4 separate regions of the Homo sapiens genome follow, and all the other regions are linked to region 4. The links come from fine-mapping of genetic effects on gene expression. A gene starts in region 4. Each other region holds a variant in brackets. All regions are shown on one strand. Distances are between the middles of the regions.

Region 1 (8,178 bases), 69 kb after region 4:
GTGCGTACTGTACAGGGCTGTACACAGCAAACTGTGTCTACTTTATGGAAAAAATTTAACCATCTGTGAACAGTTTTTTGCCTTAAGTGCTGCTTTTAGAACCAAACTGTCATATAAGATTTATCAGCTCTTTTAACACCTTTGTAGATTCCTGATGCTGTGTACAAAATCATGTCATCTATGAATAGACAGTTTCACTTCTTCCTCTCAGTCTAGATGTCCTTTATTCTTTCTTACCCCGTTTCGCTGGCTAGAATCTCTAGTACAATGTTGAATAGCAGTGCGAGAGTGAACATCCTTGTCTTGTTCCTCATCTTAGGGGAAAGCTTTCAGTCTCACCATTAACTATGATGTTAACCCTGGGTTTTCCATACATACCCTCTATTAGGTTGGGGAGGTTCCCTTCTATTCCTAGTTTGTTTTTATCGTGAAAGGGTGTGGATTTTGTCAAATGCTTTTTCTGCATCTCTTAAGATAATGTAGTTTTTGGCCTTCATAAGATCATGTGCTGTTATTACATTGACTGATTTCTATATCTTGAACCAACCTTGCATTCTTGGGTCAAAGCCCACTAAGTCATGGTTTATGATACCTTTTATACATAGCTGTTAGATTTGGTGTGCTGGAACAGCCAGCCCTCTGTATCCACGGGGGATTGGTTCCAAGACCCCCACCCCCACCCCACCTGCCACCCACCACCTTGTGATCTCTTGGGTTTTGGTGTCCATCTCATAGGATAAGCTTAGAAAGTGTTCCCTCTTCTGTGTTTTGGAAGTGTTTGTGGTGGTTTCTTGTTAATTCTTCTTTAAATGTTTGAGAGAACTCCATATAAGATTTGAAGTCACTGAGAAGCTTCAATTATCCTTTAAGAGGATAAGACCATTTTCTCCAGAGATGCCTTTTAATGGTTTTTCTTTTCATTGCGAAGGCCTAACTTAGTAGATAAGTGGACTGTGAAACCTAGTCTGTTCTGCTTATCTTCAGAATTATCAAAAGGAAGGGGTGCTGCCCTCTGAGAAAAGTCAGAAGCAAGCCTGCCTTATGAAACTCGACTTTTTAATCTCCCTCTCTTCATTATGATGTGTGCACGTGATGGACACCACTCACCTCCCTTTAGTCCCTATCAAATGCTACCCAATGGCAAAGCCAAGGGATTAGCAACAGGTAGGAGGAAAAAGAAGGACCTGCATACATGACTAACCAGCACCAGCCATTGGGGCCCTCTATGGCTGACACCAGCATCCACCCTGCACTCATATGTATCTCAACAGAATTGCTGCTTCTGTCTTCACTCAAGCCCCACTCCTTATCCCTTCCTGTTGTTTCTGCATAGAGGAGGCAGACCCTCAACTTTGGAAAGCAGTGTCCCCCCGCGTCCCATGGGCTAAATGCCACTGAGCCGGTAGGAGCTGCTCAGGTGTAGCCTCTGCCTTCAGAATTTCAGCAGGAACTGCATCATTGTGTGCCTAAAAAGCCCTGGCTCACAGCATGAGACAGTGTGTTCTAGGTGGTAACGTGGCACCTGCACATGCACCCCCAGCAGTCCTCTCTAAACTCAGGCAGTGTATGGCTGCTGCCATTCTCGCCCTCAGCATCTGTGAGATGAAGGAGTTGCTCCCCAGGGCACCTGCCCCAATACAGGCCACGTGGATCTGCCATTGCTTTTCACGTGAATGCCTAGGAGAGGCTGTTAACCCTCCTAGTTGTCCTTTTTGTACTTGGTCCTCTTCCTTCCAATCCTCACTGGCTCAAATCCACAGAGTGACAAAGAACAGAGATGCCCAGAGCACCAGCTGGAGGGGCAAGCAGGAGAAGGCACTGCTGGTGCCACAGGGGTCCTGGGCTGGCTCTTGGACCATAACCAGCGTTCACTGAGGATGCGGTTTCTTTGAAATGCTCTTGTTCTTCCTAAGTAAGGGAGAGCAAAAAAAATGAGGACATCTGTGTCAAATAGAAGAGACACCTCAACTGTCTCGTTTTTGCATGGAAATTTCATTTTTATTTGATAATCATTTGAGAAACTTGCACAGATGAAGGCAAGTTGGTTTTTATTATCTAACCTATGTAGTCAATTCTAATGTCATTTAAAAGAATTTGACATGTTAAAATACACGTGAAATTTACCATCTTACCTATTTTAAGTGTGCAATTTAGTGGCATTAAATACATTCATACTGTGCAACCTTCTCTACCACGTATCCACAAGTTCAACTTTACAAGATGAACTTTTGTCATCTTGTAAAACTGAAGCTCTGTACCCATTAAGCACCAACTCCCTATTCCCCATCCACCAGCCCCTGGCAGCCTCTGTTCTCCTTTGTCTCTTTTAATTTGACTTCTGTAGGGACCTCGTATGAGTGGAACCAGAAGGGATTTGTCCTTTTGTGACTGGCTTATTTCACTTAGCGTAATGTCCTCAAGGTTTATTCAAGTTGTAGGATATGTCAAGATTTCTTTTTAAGGCTGATTCTATGGATGGACCACATTTTGTTTGTGTACTCATCTGTTGAGGACACTTGAGTTGCTTCCACCTTTTAGCTATTGTGAATATTGCTGCCGTAAACATGGGTGTGCAAATATCTGAGTCTCTGCTTTCAATCATATGGCAATCCTATGTTTAATTTCTTAGGG[C/A]ACTGCCATAAGTGTTTTACACGGTGGCTGCACCATTTTACATTCCCACTGAAGGTTCCAGTTTTGCCACATCCTTGCCAACACCTGTTTTTAATAATTGCCATCCTAATGAGTGTGAAGTGGTATCCTGCTGAGATTTTGATTTGCATTTCCGTAATGACTGGTGATGCTGAGTATCTGTTTGTTGGCCGTTTATATGTCGTCTTTGGAGAAATGTCTATTTGGGCTCTTTGTCCATTTTTCAATCAGGTGTGTGTTTTTATATGTTCTGGGTATTCACCCTTTTCAGATATATCATTTTAAAATACTTTGTCCCATTCCGTGGATTGCCTTTCACTCTGTTTTGTTCTTTGATGTACAGAAGTTGTTTCTTTCTTTTAGTTACCTGTGTGTGCCTCTGGTGTCATATCTAAGAAATCACTGCCTCACCCTTTTCAGATATATCATTTTAAAATACTTTGTCCCATTCCGTGGATTGCCTTTCACTCTGTTTTGTTCTTTGATGTACAGAAGTTGTTTCTTTCTTTTAGTTACCTGTGTGTGCCTCTGGTGTCATATCTAAGAAATCACTGCCAAATCCAATGTTGTTAAAAGTTTCCCTTATGTTTCTCCTAAATGTTTTAGTTTTAGCTCTTAGTTTAGGCCTTTGATCTATTTTAATTTTTATATATGGTGTGAGGTAGATCTAGCTTCATGTGGATGTCCACTTGTCTAGCACCATTTGTTGAAAAGACTGTCCTTTCTCCCTTGAATGGTCTTGGCACCATCAAAAATCATTTGACCCATATGTGCAAGGGTTTATTTGGGGATTTGCTATTCTGTTCCATTGGTCTACATGACTGTCTTTGTTTCAATACAACACCATTTTGATTATTGTAGCTTTGTCGTAAGTTATGAAATAAGGAAGTGAGAGACCTCCTACTTGGTTCCCTTTCAAGATGATTTTGGCTGTGTGAGGTCTCTTGAGATTCCATATGAGTTTCAGGATGGAAAAAAAAAAGCCACTGGGATATTCTGATAGAGATTGCATGAAATCTATAGATTGCTTTGGACTATGGACATCTTAAGGTATCCAATCCATAAACACGGGATTGCTTTCTATTTATTTGTGTTGACCTTACTTTCTTTAAGCAGTGTTTTATGGTTTTCAAGTACAAGTCTTTTGCTTCCTTAAGTTTATTCCTAAATATTTCAGTTTTTTTGTTACTATTATAATGGAATTTTCTTAAATTTCCTTTTGAGATTGCTTGTTATTGTATAGAAATATCATGGATTTGTTGTGTTGATTTTGTAAACTGCAGTGTTACTGAAATTTTTTTTTGTATATGTATGGACACTAGGATTTTCTACATATAAGATCATGTCATCTGCAAACAGATAATTTTGCTTCTTCCTTTCCAGTCTGGATGCCTTTTATTTCTTTTTCTTGCCTAACTGCTCTAAGACTCCAGTACTGTGTTAAACAGAAGTGGTGAGACAGGGTATTTCTGTGTTGTTCTTGATCTTAAAGTCCTTTCAGTCTTATTGAATATGATGTTTACAGTGGGATGTTCATATGGCCTCTATTTTAGGTTGTTTCCTTCTATTCCCAATTGTTGAGTTTTTATCATGAAAGGGCATGACATTGTCTCAAATGCTTTTTCTCCATCAATGGAGATCACATTTTTTTCCTTCATTCTATTAATGTAATAGACATTACATTTATTGACTTGAGCATGTTGAAACATCTTTGCATACCAGCTGTAAATCTTACTTGGCCATGATGTGTAATCCTTTCAATGTCCCACTGAATCCTGTTGGCCAGTATTTTGTTGAATATTGATTTAAAAAAATCTTGATCAGGAATACTGATGTGTGGTGTTTTTTTCTTATAGTGTCTTTGTCTGGTTTTGGTATCAGAATAATGATGGCCTCATAGAATGCATTTGGAAGTGTCCTTTCCTCTTCAGTTTTTTGGAAGAGTTTGAGGAGAATTGATTTAATTCTTCAGATGTTTGCCAGAATTCCCATATGACCCTGGGCTTTTCTTTCTTGGGAGGCTTTTCTTTACTACTTCATGCTCTTGACTAGCATAGGTCTGTTCAGATTTTCCATTTCTTCATGATTCAATCTTGATAGGCTGTGTGTTTCTAAGAATTTGTCCAGTTCATCTAGGTTATCCAATTCTTTGATATGTAATTGCTCATAGTACTCTTAATCCTTTTTATTTCTGTAAAATCAGTTGTAATGTCTCCTCCTGGTTTTTAGTTGTTTTTCTTAGTCACTCTTAGCTATCAACAAACTCTTGGTTTCATTTATTTTTCTCTATTGCTTTTCTGTTCTCTATTTTGTCTCTGCTCTAATCTTTATTATTATTATAATCATCTCCATTCTGCTGGCTTTGGGTTGATTGCTCTTCTTTTTCTAGTTCTTTCAGATGTAAATTTAGGGTTGACTTGAGATCTTAATTTGTTTAATAGGTGTATTTACAGTTACAAATTTCCCTCCTACCACTGCTTTGACTGTACCTGTTTTTTTGTATATTACATTTTTCATTTACCACAAGATATTTTCTAATTTCCCTTGTGAGTTCCCCATTAATCTGCTGGTTGAGAGCGTTGTTTAATTTTCACATAATTGTGTACTTTTCAGTTTTTTGTCTGTTACTGATTTCTAGTTTCATCCCACTGTGGCCAGAAAAGATATTTTATTTCCTCAGTCTTTTGAAATTTGTTGACTTGTTTAGTCATCTAACATACTGTCTATCCTAGAGAAAGGTCCATTTGCACTTGAGAAAAACGTGTGTACTGCTGTTGTGTCTGTTAGGTCCAGCTGGTATGATGCTGTTCAAGTTCTGTCTTGCGACTGATCTTCTGTCTGGTTGTCCTATCCGTTACTGAAAGTGGGCTACTGCAGTCTCCTACTCTTACTGTAGAACTATCCATTTCTTCCTTTGATTCTGTCAATGTTTGTTTCATATATTTTGGGCTCTGATGTTTGGTGCATATATATTACATCTTGGTGAATTTTCAAACTTTTTAAATTTCAACATGAAGATGAAATTATAGGATGTCTGGGATTTCCTTTGAATCCGTGGGGCTGGGAGTAACTATAAATGAAACAAGATTGGCCGGGAATTTGAGGCTGCAAGGATAGGTACACACAGGGGAGTGAAGCAGGGCTTGGAGCAGATGGTAAAGATTGTTGGCTTTTCCAGCCATGGGGCTCTCTTGCCACTTGGCAGTAGTGGCATGAAGCCGCCACCAGGGGGCCACGCACCAGTGCATGTGGCTGTGTTCCAAACTTTTTGGACAATAAAATCTGAATTTCACATACTTTTCTTATGTCATTAGATATTACCCTTTTACATCTTTTCACTATTTAAAAATGTAAAAATCATTCTTAACATTTGGGCTGTGCAAAAACAGCTGGTGGGCCCAATTTTGGCCTGTATTTCACTTGCCAACCTGATTTATACTTTTGTATCTATTTGACATTTTCCATTAAAAGTTATATAACACTACTTTTTTGTACTCGTTACTTTTTAAAAAAAACTTTCTACAATGAAAATACATTATTTTTACAATAAAAAGCCAAAATACATACACAAAAATGTTACCCATTAATTATGGGAATTACTTCAAGGTAATTCTTATTTTGAAATATCTTTCCAATATTTTCTCTTATATCGCTTTTTGAAGACGCATAACATGATCCCAAATAAACAGTTGAATAAACACCACCCTCCTCTCCCCTCCTGCCCAGAAACCCACCCATCTGGAGCTGCATCTCCCAGGAAAGGAGACTCTAGAGGGAACCGCCTTCTTGCATTTCTCTAGCCTGGATTCCCATGGGAAAGATGTGTATCTTCATGCTGAGCTTTGAAGATTCTTACAGAATAAAAATTCTTACCATATCCTTCTGTCTTAATAGCACGTTTTAAAGTCTCTAGGGAGAAGAGATTTCTGTAAACACTAGTTTCCAAAGAATAAAAAAAAAAATCACTTCTCAAAACTCAAATGGTATTTCCCATCACCCCCACACCATCCAGATTTGTTCAGCTTTCTTGAAAATAAATTATCTAAATTTTTAAAAATATTTTCCTAAAACTCTAAACAGAAGTAACGTCAAAGGGATCAATAGCCTCACTTCTTATGAAAGCTAAAACTCTACCCCTTTATCAAAAGCTAAAACTCTACCCCTTTATCAGTAAGTAAGTGAAAATATCTTTGCAACTCTGAAAAACCATGCTGGGACATTAATTTCTAAATACTTAAATGGCGGCCAGGTGCAGTCCCTCACACCTGTAATCCCAGCACTTGGGGAGGTCGAGGCCAGAGATTGCTTGAGCGAGCCCAGGAGTTCAAGACCAGCCTAGGCAATATAGCAAGACCTCGTCGCTACAAAAAAAAAAAAAAAAAAAAAAAGAAAAAGGAAAAAAGCCAGGCATGGTGGCACACGTGTAGTCCCAGTTACTCAGCAGGCAGAGGTGGAGGCTGCAGTGAGCTGTGTTTGTGCCACTGTACTCCTGACTGGGCAACAGTGTGAGACCCTGTCTCAAAAAATACATAAATATTTAAGTATCCACCCGAACTGACAGCCTTATAGTACCGGGGTGGGGGGCGGTCACTGTTACTGTCAGACACACTTGAAAAAGATGAAACCACTCACTGGTAAGATAACAGTTGGTCACCAAAAGGCAAAGATGCCAGCATGATGATGATAAGCTTCAAACATAATCAGAAACCCAGTGGATGGAGATTTGCCATGAAACAGCAGGTCTTGGAGATACAGTAACCAAAACTTAGAGAATGGAATACCTCATAAAGGTGACATGCCCTTCAGTGGTGATGAAACCAGTCTTTGAATCAGAGAAAGGCACAAAGGAAAGCAGCATGTTCCCAAGGCACACATGCCAGGAGAAAACAAGCCCACCAGCAGGAGGCCTGCCTTTAACACTCACCTGCTGGTGTGAGAGCAGACGAGGCTGCAGCCACATCAACCCTGGCTCTCCTATGTAACATTCACTCAGGACTGCCCGTGCCCCTCCAACGGGCTCAGCGCCATTCATGTTGCTTATCTGTTAACCTCTTCCCCAAACCCTGCTCTTCCAGCAGACGGCGCACACACTGTGCCACACGTGTGGCTGAAAGGATAGCCATGCGTGGGGATAGCCGGAGGTGCGGTCGCTCCCCAATTACTACATTTTCCCTCTAAAAACTTAAGTGTCACATTTCAAAACACCAGCTTCTTTAGCAAACCGGTTTTTCTGTACATAACCCAGACAGGCACCTCTCTGGGGCCCCCATGTCTACACAGAGTTGGGCACTGCCCTGGACTCTCATCTACCTGATGGACAGCTGGTGCAACTTTATCAGCTGTCAGCCTTAAATGAAGAGGCTCAGAAAATACGGGGAAGTGTCTAGCACATTCAAGCACACATTTTGAGGATGGCCACCTGGGGGATGGGCTCTACACAAACAGGGTCAGCGTTCCACAGTGGAAAGTTAAGGCTTCACTCATATAGGCAGGAGCCGAGATATCGCAGAGTCTTGCCGTTTTCCACAG
Region 2 (8,178 bases), 64 kb before region 4:
TCAAAGCCGTGCACATGACATTTTTCTAAAACTCTCATGAATCTGCTAGACCCTGAGTGACCGCAGACAGCTTCTGTGGGTTAGCGTCCATCAGCGATGGCAGTCGGAGGAGTTCTCGCCATGGGAAGGTCAGGTCCTGAGCGGGCCCCTCCCCTGGAAGGGAAGCAGAGGCTTTGGGAGAGACCTGGGAAGGGGCTGGGCTGCCCAGCGATGGAAGGGAGTAGGGGAGGCTGCAGAGCTGCTGAGAGGGCCCTCCCGAGGGCCTGCAGGTCATCCTTTTCTGAAATCTACAGAATGTTTTCCTGTGGAGTTGTCTTTGTGCTTTTTGACTAGATGTAATCATATAAACCATGACAACCAAAATAAGAGGGTTTGCTTTCCCTATTGCCACCTTCCTTGGTATGACCTTGGGTTTTAATGGGTTTTCAGAGAGTGGGACCAAGTATTCTTCAAAAAGGACGTTCACTCCTTATGACTCCACAATTTGGGGTCTTCAAGGTCTTTTTTAAAAAACACTTTGGTTCAAAGCCCAGCCCATTCCAGGCCTTGTTTCAGACAGAGAGATGGAGAGTCAGCACAGCGGTCAGGGGTCCCTGGGCCAAACTCCCCACCTTGATGTCACGCATTACTGACGTTCCCGACACACAGCTCGAGGGAATCTGGGCACAGGAAGGAAGCTGAGTGAGAGTGGCCTTCCCGGCGAACCTCGCTCCTGAGGGTTCAGTGCTGACAGTGGCCTGGCTCCATGCAGGTTCTTAAACGGAGAGACAGTGATTTAATTAAACCACTCTTCGCCCGACTCTCCTGCCAGCTTCATGATTGGATCTGCAACATTCTCCAGCCCTGCAAGTCCAGGCCCCTCTCTTCTTTGTCTCATTTTTCACACTGATATTCACCTCCATTAAATGTGTCACATTTCTAAATTATCTCAAACAATAACAGTGCTGATCACATGCTTTGGACAGGGCAGTTCTCTCATTTTTTTTTTTTTTTTTTTGGACAGGGTCTTGCTCTGTCACCCAGGCTGGAATGCAGTGGCACGATCTTGGCTCACTGCAGCCTCGGCCTCCTGGGCTCAGGTGAAACTCCTACCTCAGCCTTCCAAGTAGCTGAGACCACAGATGTACACCACCACACTCAGCTAATTTTTGTATTTTTTATAGAGACAGGGTCTCGTTATGTTGTCGAGGCTGGGCTTGAACTCCTGGGCTCAATCAGTCTGCTCACCTCAGCCTCTCAAAGTGCTGGGATTACAGATGTGAGCTGCCATGCCCAGCCTAACACTTTTATCTGTGGTTGTCCAGATGACTCTCATGTGGATATAAAGTTAACAGTTGTGCAGCAAATGCTGTTTGTGGCTTCAGGCTCCTGGCCTCATGGAGCCAACAGGACTCAGGCTGGGCTCTGAAGGCGTCTGTGCAACTGCTCCACGCACATGGTCTGTGCTGCACTCCAATTTCCCCCTAAAGGATGTAGATTTGATATTAGTTCATTAAACATTTATTTATTTTTAATTTTTTAATTAAATTTTTTATTCCTTAATAAGCATTGTATAGATTTAAGGTGTACAAGGTGATGTTTTGATTTACATACATGTAGTGAACCGTTTGCCACAGTCAAGCAAATTAACACCCATCTTCCCATGTAGTTACCTGTGTGTGTGCTGCGGATGGGAGAAAGTGAGGACATTTAAGATCTCTCTCAGCAAATTTCAAGTATATAATACAGTGTTATTAGCTATCAACACCACGCTACACACATCAGGTCTCCAGGATTTATTTATCTTATAACTGAGCTTTTGTAGACTTGGGGCGTCCATCTGCGTGAGATCAGGCGGAGTTTGTCTCTCTGTGTCTGGCTTATTCCACTCAGCATCATGTCCTCCAGGCTCATCTATGTTTGTGCAAATGGCAGGACTTCCTTATTCTAAGGCGGAAGAGTGCTCCGTTGTGTGTGGACCAGAAGGAAGGAAATCTGTCCTCAGAAGAGATGTCCACAGCCCGGTGTTGACTGCAGCACTCATCACAGTGGCCAGGATACGGACACAATCTAAGTGTCCATTGACAGATCAATGGGCAAAATGCTCATCAGACATTTACTGGAAAACTGTGCAGCTCTTCCCCTGGGCTGTGTTCTGTGAGGGTTTCCGCCCCTCACCATGTGTGCACCACGATGAGTCCTCTCTACCCCCGGAGACTCAGACTCAGAGGCCGTCTCCGTCATGGTCTCACGACACTGCACATCAGACTCAGAGGCTGTCTCCACCATGGTCTCACAACACTATATTGCACATCAGACTCAGAGGCCATCTCTATCATGGTCTCCCAACACTGCACATCAGACTCAGAGGCCGTCTCTATCATGGTCTCCCAACACTGCACATCAGACTCAGAGGCCGTCTCTATCATGGTCTCCCAACACTGCACATCAGACTCAGAGGCCATCTCCACCATGGTCTCACAACACTATATTGCACATCAGACTCAGAGGCCATCTCTATCATGGTCTCCCAACACTGCACATCAGACTCAGAGGCCGTCTCTATCATGGTCTCCCAACACTGCACATCAGACTCAGAGGCCATCTCCACCATGGTCTCACAACACTATATTGCACGTCAGACTCAGAGGCCATCTCTATCATGGTCTCCCAACACTGCACATCAGACTCAGAGGCCGTCTCTATCATGGTCTCCCAACACTGCACATCAGACTCAGAGGCCGTCTCTATCATGGTCTCCCAACACTGCACATCAGACTCAGAGGCCGTCTCCGTCATTCAGAGGCCGTCTCCGTCATTCAGAGGCCGTCTCTATCATGGTCTCCCAACACTGCACATCAGACTCAGAGGCCATCTCCACCATGGTCTCACAACACTATATTGCACATCAGACTCAGAGGCCATCTCCATCATTCAGAGGCCCCCTCCATCATGGTCCCACAACACTGCACATCAGACTCAGAGGCCGTCTCCGTCATGGTCTCACAACACTGCACAGAACCTGGCCACAGCTGTGGACACTTAATATTAATTGGAGAATGAACATTGCTTAATATGTTCCCCATGATTCAGACCTGTCTGGAAAGTGGAGAGGAGGCTGGGGTGGAGCCACACGAGTTGCAGACCAAGGAGAAGAATCCAGGGAGAAGCAGCCACGCGGCTGCAATGAAGACAGAGGTGGATCCAAGACATCCGCAAAGGGCCCCTGTCATCCTAAACTGTGATTCCAGTAAAAGCAGTGAAACTTTTAAAGAGTGCAAGCCTCACGTCAAATGGAGTCAACTGACGGACTGGCGTTTTGGAAGAAAATGTGCAATTCTGATGACCACCATGGGTTAATATCTGCCATATATAAAGATATCTTAAAATGACCAAAAATCAAAATTGTCAAGAAACAAGAGAAAAATGTGTAAAGCATAAGCATAGGTTATTTAAAGAAAGGAACACACAACTAATAATCCTATAAAACATATGAACAAATGTTCATCCTACCTGGAATTTAGGGAAAACTCAAATTAAAATATTATCTATCAGGTTGAGAAATATTAAGAAGTGTCGTAACCTATATAGCTGCAAGACGTGAAAGAAAAAGGAAGTTCTCAAACATTCCTTGTGAAAAAACAAATTTTTGCAATCTTTTGAAAAGAGTGTGGCAAGATATATTAAAATTATAAATGACATACCCTTCATACCCGTGACCTGACCCCTGATAATTTATCTCATAGAAATAAAAGCACATACGGAGATGGGCACCAAGATGCCGAGGGGCCGAGACTGCCAGCCTAGTTAACCGTAGAACTGCCCCCGATGCATCCCTCGGCCCCATCATCAGGGGAGTTTAGGGGTGCAACTGCTGGCACCAGACACTTTGGTGGCCGACTGCCCATCCATGACAGTGACAATGTCTGTGCCAGATGGTGACAAC[G/T]TTCCTCCACTCCACCTTGGGGGGATGGTGCCAGTGAGGACGCTGCAGGAGAGAGTACAGGTGTCTGCAGTAAAGTCAGGCATCACATGGGCACTGTCTTAGTCCATTCATTGCTGTAACATTCAGCCATAACCTGGGTGACTTGTGCATGCATTGATTTCTCACAGTTCTGGAGGCTGGAAGTGCAAGATCAAAGCCCTGAGGGATTCGGTGTCTGGTGAGGGGTGGGTGGGGGCGGGGGCGGGGATTGCTTCCTGGTTCACGGAAGACACCTTCTTACTTCTTAAGGGGGACAGGCCAAAAAGCTCCCTTGGCCTCCAATCCCACTCATCGGGGCTCCATTCTCAGGGCGTAATCACCTCCCAAAGCCCCTGGTCCTAGTATCAGCACCTCGGGGATTTGGATTTCAACAGATAAACTTGGGGGACCCAGCATTCAGACTATGACAGCTAGAAACACAAACATACACAACACTCCTGAGCTCAGCCTTGTCTCCAGAGTTCTGCTCTTTCCAAAACTAAAGTTAGGCCCTCAGTGACTCTGTAATTCCACTCCTCTGTGGAAGTCATAGTGCCCAGATCTATTTATGCCAATAGAAATGAGACAGACAGACCCCGTCACCCAGCCCATTACTCTCACTAAGCAAGATTATTCACACTGATACATATCTTATCATTGCAGGCCATTAGCAAGGTGCATGTAATGTTCTGCATGCCCTGGGGAGACTAGAAATAATGACAGTTGTCAACGCTCCCTTCCTTCCAGAGCCCAAGACGCTGTCTCCAATGTCAGTCCCAATGACGGCTGAACAATGACATTGGCCGTTGTCCTGGCTGCCTTCTCCGACGCCCTCTGCATGTGACCCCAGCAAATAAATCTCTGCACTCCTCTACCTCCTTAGAGAGTGGAAATCCTCATGGAGAAGCAGGCACAAGTGTGAACTGCTTATGTGAGTGGTGTCAAAAGAAGAGGAGGACTCGCAGAGGGAGAGAGAGAGAGCCAGGATGTGAGAAGAACGGGTCTCTGTGTAGACTGTTGCTTGGGAAGAGTTTGTATGTTGGTTAGGATGAGAGAAACTTTATGTCGGGCCTTGGCATGCTGTTCCCAAGAATAATCTCAGGACCAAATAAAAAAAAATATGAGCAAGGACATAAACTGGCATTTCACAAAGAAAAAAATATAAATTTTCAATAAATGCGTAGAATAATATTTAAGATCATTAGTCATGAGAAAAGAAATAAAAGAAAAACAAACGTCATTGTTTCCAGTGTGACGTTTAAAAAAATTATTATGACACCCCGAAAAATAGCCACATTCAAACATTTCATCCACTGTACATTCTGAGGAGGAAAAAGTTGATCCGAAATTTCCCGAGCGCTGTCAGGCAGTTATCCAAGAGTCACAGAAACATTTACAGTCATATCTGGGTTTGCTAGAGATGGGTAAGTTTTACTTTTTAAAACTGCTTTGCTGTGTGTTTCAAACTTTCTACAATGATCATATTATACTTTTATAATCAGAAAAAAACTTTTTTAATATTTGAAATTTTCATTAAACATTAAAACGTGGGTCTTTTAGGTGGAAGCTGCCACAGACTATGAGGTACGGAAAATGGCAGCATGTCCCCTGTAGGGCCTGCCCAGTGCCAGACAATTATTTCCTCGGGGAAATGCACGTGGGAGCACTAGGCCCAGAAGGGGTGGGAGGCTCACGGGATTTTGGCGGCCGGTTCTTTCTACGGAAACGGACATTGCTGGGTGTAAGAGATGATGCCCAGGCACTGACTAGAGTTTCCTTACTTTCTTGCTGAAACAATTGGGAAAAAGACTAATGAGAAGATTTTCGTAGCCCAGCTGCATCCAGAAATGGAAGGTTAGGAGCTCCTGGCAGGTGCTGGTTAGGGAAGCTTCCATGAAATGCCTCACCAAGGACAGTAACCCAGCAGCATGTGAAACAGGCCAAAATGTTCTTTTTTAAAAAATGGAGTATTATAGACAGGATCTCCTAATGACCATTTTGCATACCCAGGCATTTCACACAGCAGAGAAGTGAGGCCCAGAGAAGTTAGGCAACTGGCCTGAAGTCACAGAGCTAATTTAATGGCAGGGCTGAGACTCAAACCCAGCTATTCTACAGGACCCCAGAGCTCCTGCTCGTTCTCTGCCCAGCCTCTGGCTGCTCTGTTATCCCTGGTTCCTGGGAATTCACTTCCTCCCCGCATCCTCATCCTGCCTGGCAGGTCCAGACCCTTAGTCTGATGTGGGCAAAGGGGTCTGAGACCCACTGGCCTTCCCCCAGCTCAGCCACTCATGGTCGTCTGAGATAGGGCAAGTGACTTGCTCTCTGACTCAGTTTCCTTATTCGTAAAATGATGATGACATGACTCAGTATTTGTGAAGACGCTAGAACTCTGCCTGGTCCAGAGTCAGTGCTATATGATTGTCTGTTAAGTGAAACGAATATAAACTATATACAAAATACTGATTTGTGTGTGACGTTTCCATTTGGGGGATCATTGTGTAAATCCTTTTCCCTCGCGAGATCTTTTTCCCAGTGTTTCCCAGCCCCTGTTGCTGCTGCTGAGGGTTCTGATTCCGTTCCGACTGCTCAGCCTTCCTGCCTCACCCAGGTGGACGTTACAGGTGTCAGTGACTCACTTTTCTGCCAACCAGACACTTCCATGTGCTCGGAATTCCAAGACCACACTGCGGAGAGCCGGGGGCCCCAGCATCCCTCAGATGCAGGAACGAGGGCCAGATGTGGGGCTCTGCACCCTGACCCCAAGCCCATGCTGCTCCCACAGGTTTATGGGGTCTGGAGGCTGTGATGGAAATGGGGAAGACGCTTCAGCATTGCTCAACAGTGGGAAAGGGGCCCAGTGATCCGCCAGCAATGCTGAGGTGTGGGGCCCCGGAAAGGGGAGCCAGGGACAAGGGTGAGTGCTGCCGAGGGAGGGATCAGCGGGTCATGCTCAGTAGCTTGTCAGATGGTAGGAGAAACCCACAAAAATTAAACCCACAGCAGCCGAAAATAGAGTGGAGTGGTTAGAGGATACAGTTGAGGAAATCTCCTGGACAGTTCAACAGGGGTGGCTAACAAGAGAGAGAGGATAATAAAAATATGTCTATGTGAAGCTTGCGGTGATGTAAATTTTACAAGTCAACTTGGTGGGGCTCCGAGTTTCCAGAATAGCTCAGCGCTGGAACCTGTGGACGGAGGAGAGCAGACCCACCCTCCCCCGTGCAGATGGCACCATCCAAGCCGCTGAGGGCCTGAATAGAACACAGAGGTGGAGGAGGGCTGGGTGACCGCCAGACTGCTGAGCTGGCCTCCCCCACCCCCCATCTTCTCCCATCCTCAGCTCTCTGGTTCTCAGGCCCTGGGCCAACCCCACCGGCTCTCCAGGGGCTCCAGCTGCAGACACCAGATCAAGGGGTCTCCCACCCTCCATGGTCAGGTGAGCCAGTCCCTTGCAATACATCCCTTTATCCCTCCACATCCCATTGGCTCTGCTTCTCTGAGAGCCCTGGCTACTATGGGGGATCATCAACAATCAATACAAGAAAGTTCCCTGCTCTGAAGGCCATTGCTCCCACTACGGGGCATTCATGACAATTCCGATCATCTCAGTGGCCACAGGTCAGTCCAAAAATGTGGTTTTGCCTACAAATTGGGACAGCTAGGGGAGACCAAGGGCTGAGGGGTACAAGGTGGGGCTGACGTGTGAAGGAACAGCTGTGGCCTTCCTGGCCAGCGTGGGTCATTCCAGGGCAGCCGCAGAGCAGGTCTGTGTGTCCCGGCTGCCTGTCAAGCGTGCTGCATGCACGTCAGTGACCCTCTAAGACCCGCGTACATTCTACTGCTCCTCTCCCTGTGTCAGCTACCAGGGGCTGGTATTTTCTATCAAGTCGTCAAATCTCTGCAAATCTAATTATCCTCCTTCAGTGTGCCAGACAGAAAGTGGTAGCGGCAAGGAGCTTTATCTTACATCCCAGATCAAGTTTGTCTTGATCACCAGTGTCCTCCGCATGGATGACCTACTTTAGGTGCTGCCCGTTGCTGGTGGGTGATAGTGAAATCTTTCAATTTAAGGAGAAATTAAGTGAAATCACCCCACAGCCGAGGCTCACATTCCACCAGGTCATCTGCAGCTTGGGTTTGAGCCTCACAGGACAGGGTTTCAGCAGTAGCTGATAAATGAGCTGTGCGTGGATTCCAGGGGCACGATAACACACTCTCTCCCGGAAGACGGA
Region 3 (5,345 bases), 62 kb after region 4:
CATATCATGGAAATTGAGAACAAGTCTCTCCTAGGAAGGACAGCTGCCCATCTCTTAGTTCTGGGAGGTTCATGTCTTGCCCTTGGAGGCTGTGATGTCCACTTCACTGTAGCTACAGTGAGTGGTCCCATCACAGCTTCTCCCACTGAATATCATTCTAGAAGGCAGTCCACGTTTTTAGTTCTGAATCCATGCATTGGAAGTATTCAAAAAGAGCCATCTCTCCTAATTTAACCCCTCAAGATGTCAGGTACTTCTTGCCCTGTCTTCCATCTCCTCCGCCGTGGGTTTGCCCAGTGTGGCTAACCAGAGGCGAGTGGCCTGGTGGGCCAAACCCAGATTGGAGTCAGGCAGACCTGGACCTGCCTCCGGGGTCTCCTGAGCTTGCTGCCCCTCCTAGGGTCTTGGTTTGACGCCATGACCCACCACACAGAGGAGCTGTGGATGTTCAGCAGTCCTGCACCTGGAAACTGGCACATAGCTGGTGCTCAGAAAATGGCACTTAGGGTTAGGGTCACTGCTTGTTCTTTGTTTGTTTAGCATCCCAGTAGTTTGTGTTGACTGAGAAACTAAAGTAATATCAAAGCTGTTAAGAAAATGAGACTGGGTGTTGTTGACTCTAAATTCTGGCCCTGGGACTTGGTCATGAGCCGACACCATGGTGCATCTGTCTCAGGTCTGCATCTGGTATTTATCACTTCCCACAGTACATAAGCTTGGAGCTCTCCAGTCAGCAGTGCTGTGGAGCCACTTCATCTGCTCCCAAGCTGGTTTCCCATCTGTTGTGGCTCTACTATATTGGAGTTCTTTTTTAACTTTTCTACCTGCCTTAGTCAGCCTTCCACACAGTCTGTAAGTAACTGGGCTGAGTTAAGCTCTGGAGCCAAAGACTGACTTCGATGGCCCTGCGAGGGTCCACTGAGAGGGGTGGCGTTACCTCCCGGCTGTACAAAACCTCAGTTAAAAACTGTAGACTTGTTGGCTGGGTCAGGGAAGCCATGATGAGCATTTGGCCTTTTTATGTCCTGTTTTTTCTTGGTGTATCAGTTGCCAGAATAGAGGGCTGGCCATCTGACGTTCACCCCACAGGCCTGTGTGGACATCAGGAGCAAAGTTGGAGCCAGAATCCAAGATGAGGTGTCCATGGTCTGGTGGTCCTGGTCTTGCAGGGGAACCGCTTTGCTAGTAGCATCCTGAACCAGCGGGGGAGAACAGCACAGGAGGGCAGCTGCTGAGGCTTGGGTCTGTGTTGGAAAGTGGCATTCACTGGCCTGGAGGAACAAGTGTCAGAGGTGGAGGCTGGCTTAAGGGCATGTGTGGAATTGACTTAATGTGCATTACTGAGCACAGAGCAGAGCCTTCGGATGTTAAATGAAGAACAAAGAACTTTCCCCAAAAAAATCTGTTATAAAGTTTTAATATAAACTGCACATGGAAATAGCATCTCTTCTTCAGTGAATAATTTTAAAGGTTATTTAGCACTGCAGCCTCATTAGTTGCCAAATTTGAAAGACTTAAAGGTAGAGATATGTTGTCTTAAGACTGTCTTCAAGTAGTTTGGGAATTTTTGGGTTATCTGATGAGAACTTGTTTGCTTTTAATAACCTTGTACTGTCCAAATTTAGTTACCTGATGTTTTTAGTTATTTTCGTAAATAATATGAATCAAACCTGAATGCTTAGATACACTCTGGCTCTTTCTAATCTTAACTTTTCCTTTTTTTCCCTCCCTTCACTGCATTCCTTCCTGATTCTTTCTTCATGATCTCGAAGGACTACCATCTTGCTTTACTATTCAAGGTACTTCCCTGTCTTGCCACACATCCTGTGTTCGGGATGAAAACGTTGCATCGTGCTGCATCTCATGCACGTCATCTTGGCCACTGCCCGGCTCGATTCCAGCTCTCGCTGACTTGAGCTTTCTCAGGACCCTGAGCAGGGCTGAGTGGCCACTTTGATCAAACACCTCAGCAAGGACGAGAGTGTTGATGAAATATTTTGCAGAACAACACCTGAGTGCTGAGGGAGGCTGCTAGATGTGCGCATAAACACTTCACCACACAGCACCTGGTTTGGCAGCACTGCCAGGGCATGCCATGGAGAGATCCAGCACTGACCCCAGAGCCTCTGGTCCCGTTTACCTGCGTTCCTCCTAAGAGTCTGCCAGTCTTCATCCACAAAATTAATTTTTCTGTCGTCACTTCTCATATTAAATATAATTCTGGATCCTTAGGTATGTGAGCATGGCCAGCTCCCTTGGAGCAAGCAGGAGCCTTGGGGGCTGAGGCCGTGTGTCCCCCTCTCCTGTCCTATGCAGGGAGCCCAAGCTGATTCAGGGATGAATGGCGGGTGGAGGGAACCCTGTGTAACAAAGTGAGCCAGGAACAGGAGGACAGGACAAAGGAATGGCTGGGACCAGAGGACAGAAAGTCCCCAGTGGTTTCTTCTGTGGCCTTGTAGATTCCGGGGCAGTGCAGGGTGGTGTCAGCAGCTGGCTCCTCTGACTCAGTACCAGATTCGGCACTGGAGGGCAGACCTGGGGCCACCGTCTCCTGCCCTACCTGAGCAGGAGTTCCATGGGAAACCTCTATGTAGAATCGGCTGCGGCTGCCCTTGTGTTGGTCATTCTCATCCAAGTTATCTCCCATGTACCTCTGAGGTGGGGCCCAGGGTCCACATCAACAAGCAGCTGACGACCCCTCAAGCACCATCACTAGAGTGTGGCTGGTGGTGGGGCCCCCTCCTAACCATCTCCCACCTCCCCACAGGACTCAGGACACCCCTGCACGGCGGCCGACCCTGACAGCTGCTTCACGCCTGTGTCTCCGCAGCACTTCATCGACCTCTTCAAGTTTTAAGGGCTGCCCCTGCCATCCCTATTGGAGATTGTGAATCCTGCTGTCTGTGCAGGGCTCATAGTGAGTGTTCTGTGAGGTGGGTGGAGACTCCTCGGAAGCCCCTGCTTCCAGAAAGCCTGGGAAGAACTGCCCTTCTGCAAAGGGGGGACTGCATGGTTGCATTTTCATCACTGAAAGTCAGAGGCCAAGGAAATCATTTCTACTTCTTTAAAAACTCCTTCTAAGCATATTAAAATGTGAAATTTTGCGT[A/ACT]CTCTCTCTCTCTATATATATAGTTCAAAAATACTTTAGGTGGTCAGCTCCACATTCTTTGTTGACGTGACACTAACGGCCAATAATATGCTTCTTAATTATCAAATTATAGTTTCCCAATTGGGAAACTAATTGGGGGTGGGTTACAAAACATTTGATCCTTGTAAATACATTGTACAGAATATTTATTTTTTCTCAAAATGCATTTTAACTACTACATTGGCTGTGCCCAAATGAGTCCTCTTTGAATAGAAAGTGAACCCAGGGCAATGACAGCCATTCTTGTCTTAGGGATTATGGATCGGGGTATGAAGTGTGCACACGCAGCCCAACAACGGGCAGTGGTCTCTGTGCTCCTAGGCATCCAGCACAGGTTCTGGCAGGGCACCCCTGCTGGGGTTGGGGGCTGGTCTGTGCATAATCCTGGACTGTGATGGGAACAGCCCAGTGCAGTCTAAACTTCAATTGTGTTGAAACTACTTTAATAGACAAAGTAATAAATCATGTTTATCTATTGATTTAAACTTCATCAGTTTTGCATCCTACTGAGAAATGTTAGTGATTTTGATACTTAAATCCTTAAAAGATTGCTTCGTTTTTAAAATAACGCATGTCCATTTTAGAAAATTAGAAAATCAGTCCCACCACCCAAAGATTATTGTGCATGCTGAAAAGAGTATGAAAAATCCCCTCAGCAGGCATAGGATAGAAACGTATTGTTGTATATTTCCATTTTTGAATAGGGTCAAGGAGCCCAAGCAAATCATTTCTACTTTTTCCTTTAAGCATAATAATAAAAGTATACTTTTATGGCGTTATAAATAGGACTAAAAAAAGATTCTGGATTTTTCAGCCCCACTTCTGTGAACTGACACAAATGGCCAAGAATGCATTTATTTGTCAAATTATAGTTTCTCCTGAGGCGATGCAAATACCTGGGGCCTCTGCGAATATATGTTAGTTTTTCATAAGACCATAAATGTCCCGTATACCACTGTTACTTCACAACGCCCCCCGTCCCGACCCTGCCTTTTTTTAGAAACGTAGAACCATATCCTAAATGTTATTTGGAAACTTGGCTTTTATTAGCTCCACAGAATCACCCAGATGGAACAGGCTTTTTCATCACAACATATTGGGGTTCCTGAGTGTCTCGCCGTTAGCATCAATAACTATGATAAGCATCGTCACACAACAATGTGGCCGTCTCCTTACAACCACTGGTAGTACAGCCAACATCATGAGTCAAACATATTTTAAGGCTTTTAAATATATTTCTAGATTGTTCATGAAAAAAAATTTTTTTGGAGTTTGTTTTTGAGACAGGGTCTTGCTCTGTCACCCAGGCTGGAGTGCAGGGGTATGATGTCGGCTTACTGCAACCTCTGTCCCCCAGGCTCAAGTGATCCTCCCACCTCACCCTCCAGTGATCCTCCCACCTCAGCCTCCCAAGCAGTCAGGACCACAGGCATATACCACCATGCTCAGCTGTTTTTTTGTATTTTTAGTAGAGATGGGGTTTCACCATGTTGCCCAGGCTGGTCTCAGGAGTTTGAGCTCAAGCAATCCACCTGCCTCAGCTTCCCAAAGTGCTGGGATTACAGGCATGAGCCACCACGTCCAGCTGAGAAAAGAAATTGTTCTAATCTAGGAAAGGGAGTAAGTACATTGAGTTTCCATTATCCCTGAAGCACAGGTATTTCTTTTTCTGTTGGTGCTGTTTTAATAAGTGAAGAATTTGATGTATGATAAATTGTGAGCTTGAATATTTCCATATATTTATTATCCATTTGCTTTTCTTGTTTTTGGTAAATTACTTAATGTGGTATTTGCCTGTTTTTTGGGGTGGATGTCAGTCTTTTTTCATGTTAGTTTCTTCTTAAAAGGAAACTATCCTTTTGAAGTTGTGGTTCTTTCCCCTAATTTGTCATATACTGTTACTGTCATTTAATTGTTAGATGTTATAACAGTTCTCAGCTGTGCTATCAAATCACAGATGTGCATTTAACTTGTATAAATTGAGCAGTACTTGCTTGGAAAACATAACCATATTAATAGTGTAGGATTCCAGCTGTTCTGCTGGGCTGGCATATTTCCACAGGCCATGGACACAGCTAGCCGCATTGCCACTGCATGGGTCACAGCCTCCTGCAGGTGCGTTCGAGGGACAAGCTGTGGGAGCTGGGCAGGTAAGCAGGGATGGCTTACATTGCTGGGGAGAGATTGAAAGGTTAATGG
Region 4 (8,178 bases):
AACAAACCCCCCAGACATGAGTTTACCTGTATAGCAAACCTGTACATGTAGGGTGATGAAATAATCTGTACAACAAACCCCCAGACATGAGTTTACCTGTATAGCAAACCTGTACATGTAGGGTGATGAAATAATCTGTACAACAAACCCCCAGACATGAGTTTACCTGTATAGCAAACCTGTACATGTAGGGTGATGAAATAATCTGTACAACAAACCCCCAGACATGAGTTTACCTGTATAGCAAACCTGTACATGTAGGGTGATGAAATAATCTGTACAACAAACCCCCAGACATGAGTTTACCTGTATAGCAAACCTGTACATGTACCCCTGAGCCTAAAATAATAGATTATTTTAAAAAGATACTGGGTTTATGAAGTCCCCAGGAGGTCAGGAGGAAGAGAGAACGCTTGAGACAAGCATGGTCAGTGAGGAGCTTGCAGGGATGGCAGAGGGGCAGGGAGCAGCAGAGTTTGAGTAGAGGAACCAGAAGCCCAGCCCTGGACCCATCTCTGCCTTCCTGTGTGTGCGCCTAACTCAGCTTTCAGGTGAGAGCTGGGGCTCAGGAGGTTATGTACTCACTTGAAGTTGCACGTCTAGGAATCTAGATGATGGTCCCATGTCTGCTGTGCCCCCGCCCTACGCTATTGCTAGGACAGCCAACCTCTACTCAGGGGCTGCAGCCGGTCAGCTGGCATCTACCAGGCTCAGCTGAGAGGGGTTCAGAGCCTAGAGGAGCTGTGGCATGCCAGGTCTAGGCTGCCTGTTGGCTGCTGTCAGGATGAATGCTGTTGTACATAGATTCTTTTTGGCAACCAGAGACTTTCAGACGTCAATGGCCATGCAGTCTCCATGTTGCCCTTCCCATCCTGACACCACACACTCCTTATGCTGCAGCCACCATGGATGCCTGAGTGAACAGCCCTCAAATTCTATTCTAACTCCTTATTTAAAAGATAAGGAGACCCAAGACTGAGAAATTTGACATAAATAAGCAAACCGGCTTGCCTGAGCTGAGTACTGCGTTTGGTCTCACGATAGCTGCCTGCTGGCGTCTGATTTTCACAGCTAGTACAACCTTCCAGCACCTTCCAGGATTGGTTTCTGAAAGAGGGGATTGTTTTTGCTCCCAGTCCCCCTAAACATTCTGTAGGTAATTACAGCACTCATGGCCCCATTTTCTCACTGTGTGTTTGCCACCTTGGGTCTGTTCAGATGGCAAGCTCCTGAAAACCAGGCACCTCCTCCTTGTACCCATGGCACCGTCGTGGTGCCTGGCTGCTGTCAGCACAGAGCATTAGCTCTGAGACACCTCCTCCTTGTACCCATGACACTGTCGTGGTGCCTGGCTGCTGCATTAGCTCTGAGACACTGCTGTGTTTCCCTCCTAGTTCTGCATCAGGTGGTACTGTTTTGTTTTGGTGGCTTGGTTCATTTTTTCTTATTGCAGTATTATCACTGCATAGAAAGCAGAAGTGGTCTTCCCATATTGTGTAAAATCCCCATTAAACATACACCACATGCTTCAGAGCGGCAGGAACAGGAAGAAGGATGGGATTCCCCGTGCCCGAAGGTATACCAAGTCTACATTGTCCTGAGAGTTAGGGACTACATACACTTGTCCGTGCAGCATTTGGGAAGGTCAGAGGAGACGACTGTGTGGTGTGCATTGGAGAAGCGTGGGACCCCTGTGCTCACCACCACCCTAAGCCCCTGTGAGGCAGGGGGCACCTGGTGCACTGTGACCAGCACTCTCCCAGCTTCCTGCCAGGAGGAGCCAGCTCCTTAGGTTCTGTAGGGTTTGACTTAAAGAAAATTTTAAAACATGATTTTTCAACAAGTTGATTGCCAAAAAATCTCTGTGGTTAGGGAGGCACCTCCCTACTGGTCACTAATTCCCCCTGCCGAGCCTTCTGCCCGGGCAACTGCTCCACAATCTCCAGCTGCACCATGTGTTTTGAAAAGCATTTCTCCCCGCCCCTCTGGGGTTTTTCTCCTCCTCCAGTGGTGAAATTCCCGAGGGCACTGAGTGGGTTACTCTTCACAAGCACAGAGCTAAGCCCAGTCCTGGTAGAAAGGACACACAAAGAAGACCCAAGACCATGAATATGCTCTTGACATTACTCTGTGGGCTCTGCTGTTACTCTGTGGGTTCTGACGTTACTCTGTGGGCTCTGCTGTTACTCTGTGGGTTCTGACGTTACTTTGTGGGCTCTGCTGTTACTCTTTGGGCTCTGCTATCACACTATGGGTTCTGATGTTACTCTGTGGGTGCCTGCTATTATTCTGTGGGTCCTGCTGTTACTCTGTGGGCTCTGATGTTACACTGTGGGTTCTGCTGTTACTCTGTGGATCTCTCTGTGGTTACTCTCTGAATTCCTGCTCTTACTCTGTGGACTTCTTTTGTTGCTTTGTGAGTTTCTGCAGTTTGTTTACCTCTTTACCATCCATCCAGGAATTCTTTCACTAGGAATTGTGAGGATGCTAGCCAATTGGGCTAAATTTAATATTACTATGTCCCCCATTGTGGTGGTGGGGTCTTGGCTTGGCAATTTCTACTAGTATTCCATATGCAGTTAACCTTGACACATCAGTGAAAGAAAAATAAAATTTCAGGCCTCCAAACTTACTATGCCAAAGGGAAAAGTTAATATTGGCAAAACACACACACACACACACACACACACACACACACACACACGCAGTCTTCTTTTTGTTCCCAAAAGCTTACTTTATCTTATGTGAAATGTAGATCTACTGAGTATGAGACAGATGCATAACCCTCCCCCATACCTTTCTTTTCACATGTGAAATGTAGATTTGCTGTACTCTAATCAGAGCCTCACAAAAATGTGACCACTTGCCTCATAGCCTACTCTCCCCTCTTTCCCCTCCTACCGGCGCTTTTCCCTTAAATATTTGGAAAAAAGTACAGGCCAAAAATCCTACTGTAACCTGTGTTTCTTTTTCCCCAGACACGTCCACGATTTTGGCAGAATAAACCTCTAAATCAGTTGTGATCTGCCTCAGACACTTTTTGCTTTACACAACAATCCAATCATAGCGATTTATTTGGAAATATACCTTCACAAGTTAAATCAGACCACAGCGCTACTGGGCATTATTTATAATGGCAAACTATTGCAAACAATTTAAAACCTATCATAGACATCATAGAAACTATTCTAATAAATTGATACATTTATATAATAGAATAATCCGCAACCTTGAAGGGAATGAAGGAAGGAATAAAGAGAGAGGGAAAGGAAGAAAAGAACGGAGAGAGGGAAGGAGGGACAGACAGGTGTTTAAATTGGGGATGTGCAAGCAATATTGCCTACTTCATTGCCTTCACATTATTTAAAAGCATGTGGTCAAGAAACACTATTATAATAAGCACTTCAGAAATAACTTCTAAAATTACTTTTCCAAAATATGAATCCATACTATACACTTCCTGTAATGTGCACCACATGTAGATGCACACATTTTAACAAGGAAAAGACTAATACTCATATTTGCTTGCTACACACCAGACACTGTTTTAAATGTTTTGCACACGCTAACTCATTTGTTCTTATGGAAATCCTGTAGCGTGCACCGCCACCTCCATGTTTCTAGGCGGAAACTGAGGCACGGGGGCTGCGGCTCCTGGACCCACCTGGCCTTCTCGGCCTGCCTCTCTCCCTCCAGCCGCCCCACATTCTTTTTTCCTAATTGGAAAAAACTATTCACGCTGCTCCTCCAGGGCATTTCAACCTTCTAGAAAGATTCGACAAGATTCGAAACTGTTTATAAAGAGAACGTGCTTGTGCCCGAATGCTGAGTGTGAGCGCGCAGTGATGCCCTAGAGTGCAGTCATCCCGGGCTTGGCGCCCAGCGGGTGGAAATACGGCCGCAGGGTGGAAATGCGGCGGCGGGGCTGCCCAGGCTCCTGTGGGACCCGCGCGGCGCGGGCACGCACATTCTCAGGGACGCGCGTCCTCAGGCCACGAGAACACCTGAAGGCCCCGGCCAGCGTCCTCCCGTGAAGACCCGGACCGGCGTCGTCACCCGCCGCGCAGGCCTAAATCTCAGGTCTTCACCGTCATCTCCCAGCGATCGCAGGGATCTCAGGCACTGACCGCGCCCGTCCCTGCGCACCCGAGCCCCACCCCACGCCCCCACGCCCCCACGCCTCCACGCCCGGCACTCTGGACGCGCGCGGACGGAGGGGCAGTGCCTACTACGCAGGCGCACGCTGCGGGCGACAGGACCAGGCAGCAACATTGCCACGCGGATCCGCGCCGGCCAATCAGCATGGCCAGGGGCGGGGCTTCCCTGAGGCGCGCCGGGAGGCGGCGGCCCACTTCCGGCAATAACCGCCTGGTCGCCGTCAGGTGCGGGCCCAGGTGGCCGGCGCGCCCGTTGGGCACTGGGGGACGCGGGCGCGTCAGGTGAAGACTGGGGGCCGCAGGCGCGCTAGGTAGGTGCGGGGTGCAGCGGGCGCGTCAGGTGAAGACTTGGCGCCGCAGGCGCGTTAGGTGAAGATTGGGGCTCGCGGGCGCGTCAGGTGGGGACGACGGGCCACGGGCGAGTCAGGTGAAGACCGGGGGCGGCGGGCGCGTCAGGGGAAGACATGGGGTCGCGAGCGCGTCAGGTGGGGACGGGGCCTGTGGGAGGGTCAGGTGGGGACCGGGGGCCTCGGGCGCGTCAGGTGGGGACGGGGTTGTCGCGGGCGCGTCAGGTGGGGACGGGATTGCCGCGTGCGCGTCTGCTGAAGTCTGGGTCCGCGGGCGCGTCAGGTAGGGACGATGGGCCGCGGGCGCGTCAGGTGGGGTCTGGGGGCGGCCGGCGGGTGTGGAGGGTTCATTCAGGGAGCTGCGGGCGAGTCGGGTGGGCACGGGGGCCGCCCACAGGTGCACCGCGCGTCCTCAGCCGCTTCCCCTGCCCACCTTCTGCGACCCCTTCCCGCCCCCACCCTCCTGGGCCGTCTTGCAGGCCCGAGCTTGTGTCCGCCTCGCTGGGCAAGGTGTTTCGGGGACGACTCCTGCCGGCGTTTGCCCTCCGGGCTCGGTCCTTGCCTCTTCGCCGGTGGGCACCTGCTAGGTGTGACCCCTCATTCCTCCAGGCCACTCTGCCCCGTCTGCTGCTTACCTTTTTTTCCCTACTCCTGGTCTGTGGCTCTGGCTCTGTCTCTGTCTCCTCCCTTAATTTCTTTCCATGCTTATTTTTCTTGCAGCAGACACTAATTTTGCATCCTTCCCCTCACAGTAAGCTCAATTTGACCTTTTTCTCAATTAGATTCCACCTCTGTCCTTGGGCCTATTCAAACTCATTTTGAAGACTAAAGAATCTAGAGAACCATTTCTTCCCTTATGAAGCTGTCTCTTGCTGCCTCCAAATCCTTACCATCCGGCCCTAATCAGAAAAGACGTTTACTCTTTCATATTCTGTTTTCTCCTCGTCTTTACGTGTTTACCTTTCCCATGAGGAATCTGTGATTATCTGTAAGTCCTTAGAGTACAACTTATTTCTGACTCTCAGCCCTCAGTTTGCCATTTTTTAAAATGTCCTTTCTGGATCAAATTTGTCCACACTTATAAGCAAAACAAATAGGGAAACACATGTGGTCTTTTAAGATGGATTGGAGTTTTCTTTCCTGTGTTGTATTCCTTGTTTTAGTGCCTTTGTATTTAGGTTCATCATTACTTGAAATCATATTAGTGATCTGTAATAGACGGTAAAAAAAAAAAAAGTTAAAAAGCTTATAATTTAATGGCATCTGTTTTAATAGGGTTTTCAGGAACTGCTATTATAAACATAGTGGTTAGGAGCATGGATCCTGGAGTGAGACTCCATCATTTTGAATCCCAGCTCCACTGAACTCTTTGCCTCAGTGTCTTCATCTTTAAAATACATAATGAAACTTGTAAAACAAGAATAATGTTTTCTACCTTGGAGGACAGTGTGAGGATTAAATGAGACAACATATGTAGATTGTTTAGAGTAATGCGTAGCCTATGGTAAGCTCTAATAAATGTTTGCCATTATTATTGTTAAGAAAAAATATGCTTGTTGAAGGAAAGACATTTTTTTTTGTTCTGAGTCTCTCATGCCAAGAGTTTCCACCAGCAAATGAACTTCATGAAGTCCTTTTCTACTGAAGTATCCCACCCACGTGTCCTACCACATGAAATAGAAATTAAGGGAAGATTTTAAATAGTTAATCATTGTAGGCTGTCTGAAATAAGTTGGCATAAAATGTGCTTAAAATTTGCAAATTATACAAGCTACACCCTTTGAGTGCTTGCTCTTAAAAGTTTAATAATTTTCAGGAGTAATTTCTAGTTTTTTTGTGTTTGTAAATTCCCAAAATAAAGGTAATTTTAATTAAAATAAGCGTATAAAGCTCTAGCAATTCACATTTTTTAGCTGAACAAATACATTCCCATTGAAAGCCGTGGGTCATCATCATTCTATAAAACTTTAGTAGCATTGTTTTCTGATTTGCAAACTCAGAAGCCTCAGTTTGGGAGTATTTTTGAAAACTTGAGATCCAGACCCCAGACGTTTTAAATTGCAACTTGTCTTTTTTTGTTGGTGGTGTTGTTTTTAATCTGCATCCAGAGTTTGTGCTTTAGTTCATGAGCTGTATAGATTATGCTTTAAGAAAAACTTCATTGTGATCCATAGAGCATACCATAACAAATCTGTGAAGCACACACATCTTCAGAGAAACAAATCTTTTCCTCTGTGTTGAAAATAAGCCTTTGGGCATGGACTATTTTTTTATTTCCATGGCTGCATTTCACTCCTTTCAACCCTTAAAAAATCAAACTTATCAGCTGAGAAATTCAGACCAAACTATTCATTTTTCACTGAGTTGCCAAAATGAATTATCTGTAGAGTTTAGGTAGTTGTAAAAGAATTGGTTATATTAATGGAAACAGTAGGCAGGCTCTTTATGTAAATGTTATAAAGATTGTGAAACTAGAAGATAAGTGTATTAAATGATGAGTGGGCATAGTGTCTAAATAGGTAAGTACAATATTTGTGTGTCATCAAGTTTTAAAATATTTTTTCAGCTGAGGATACCGGGATGTACATAGGACAGTCATCCAGATAAGGTTCTGTTGGCAAGATATTTGTTGCCTAGTTGTTTTTTTCTGTCTCCATGTTTTTCATTTGATCTATCCTACAAGCCCTAGAAAATTATTATTCTCAAAACAACACTGCTCACGCTGATCTGTTGCTGAAAAACGTTTAATTACTGACAGAATAAAGTCTAAACACCTTTGATATTCTTCTATGACCTGGCTTCTAGTCGCTTATGTACCAGTCCTCTGATAAACTTTCTCCATTTTATCCCATCTTTTCTGCTTATTTTTCTCAAACTGTGGCACACATTTTGCCCTTTATACTTATTCACCCACCATTCCCATGATTGATATTTTTTGCCTTGCCTCTCCATTCATTTAAGATCTAACCATGCTTCAGGGCGAAGATCGAGTCCTAGTTTCTAGTCAGAGCTTTCCCAGCTGATTTGCTTTCTGCTCAAATTAACTTTATTCTCTCTTTACCACAAGTTACAAGATTGTGGACATATCTGTATGTATGTATACATGCACACTCACATATCTACATGTAAACACACTTTATTATATTACACTTGTATGGAATTTGTGTGTGTTTTGCTATTGTTCTTTTTTAGTTCCTTAGCTAAATTGCACACTTTTGAGGGCAGGAACATCTAGCATAATAACATGTAGTTGGTGCTCAAATGTTTGTCGTTGAAGTAATCCTGTATTTGGTCTGTTAGCAATATTTTTCAGGATTATCCACTTGATTTTTTTTTTTAATATAGATTTCTGAATCCACAGTTTCAAGTTGATATTGAGAGATAATTTGATAATTATCAGAGATGTTCCTAGCAGCCATTTTCTGTTGAATGTGTTTTATGAGACTCAAGGTGCCACTTCAGTCATCTGCTACTTCATGGTCTTTGCTGCCTTTGGTGGGAATGTTCTTGAAAATCATAAAATCAGCTGTATGCTATTAGAGACAGTTTTAGATAACTTTAGGTCGACTGAACATGGGCATTGAGTTTTGCATTTTAGGATGTTCAGTAGTTGTGAAGCAGTTCTGTGAGACAAAGTTTATCAAAATTGTGCTGAAATTTAAGGAATAAAGTAT

Direction of the effects. Alleles are on the strand shown, and positions count from the first base shown. SD is a standard deviation of normalised expression in the study named. Not every link is listed here.
For the expression in cerebellar hemisphere of the gene that starts at base 4,360 in region 4, allele C in region 1 goes with a higher level than allele A (moderate effect, 0.43 SD a copy in GTEx).
For the expression in skeletal muscle of the gene that starts at base 4,360 in region 4, allele A in region 3 goes with a lower level than allele ACT (small effect, 0.20 SD a copy in GTEx).

Evidence for each region.
Region 1: its variant is fine-mapped to the expression of FBXO25 in cerebellar hemisphere (GTEx, PIP above 0.99).
Region 2: its variant is fine-mapped to the expression of FBXO25 in monocytes (TOPMed, PIP 0.91).
Region 3: its variant is fine-mapped to the expression of FBXO25 in skeletal muscle (GTEx, PIP 0.98).

Annotation. Positions count from the first base shown.
Region 1 is chr8:471,835-480,012 of GRCh38, forward strand. FBXO25 (F-box protein 25) reads left to right here. Exons shown (of 10, transcript NM_183420.2): 10 at 1-6,133. Among named protein-coding and RNA genes, the nearest start is that of TDRP, 69 kb to the right of the region's middle. RefSeq lists enhancers at 7,213-7,714, 7,715-8,178. The variant C/A (reference allele first, on the strand shown) is at 2,632.
Region 2 is chr8:338,627-346,804 of GRCh38, forward strand. No RefSeq gene overlaps it. Among named protein-coding and RNA genes, the nearest start is that of FAM87A, 40 kb to the right of the region's middle. The variant G/T (reference allele first, on the strand shown) is at 3,926.
Region 3 is chr8:465,948-471,292 of GRCh38, forward strand. It overlaps FBXO25 (F-box protein 25), which reads left to right. Exons shown (of 10, transcript NM_183420.2): 10 at 2,768-5,345. The coding sequence ends at 2,857. Among named protein-coding and RNA genes, the nearest start is that of FBXO25, 62 kb to the left of the region's middle. The variant A/ACT (reference allele first, on the strand shown) is at 3,108.
Region 4 is chr8:402,599-410,776 of GRCh38, forward strand. FBXO25 (F-box protein 25) reads left to right here and starts at 4,360. Exons shown (of 10, transcript NM_183420.2): 1 at 4,360-4,468. RefSeq lists an enhancer at 1,922-1,981 and a silencer at 4,083-4,492.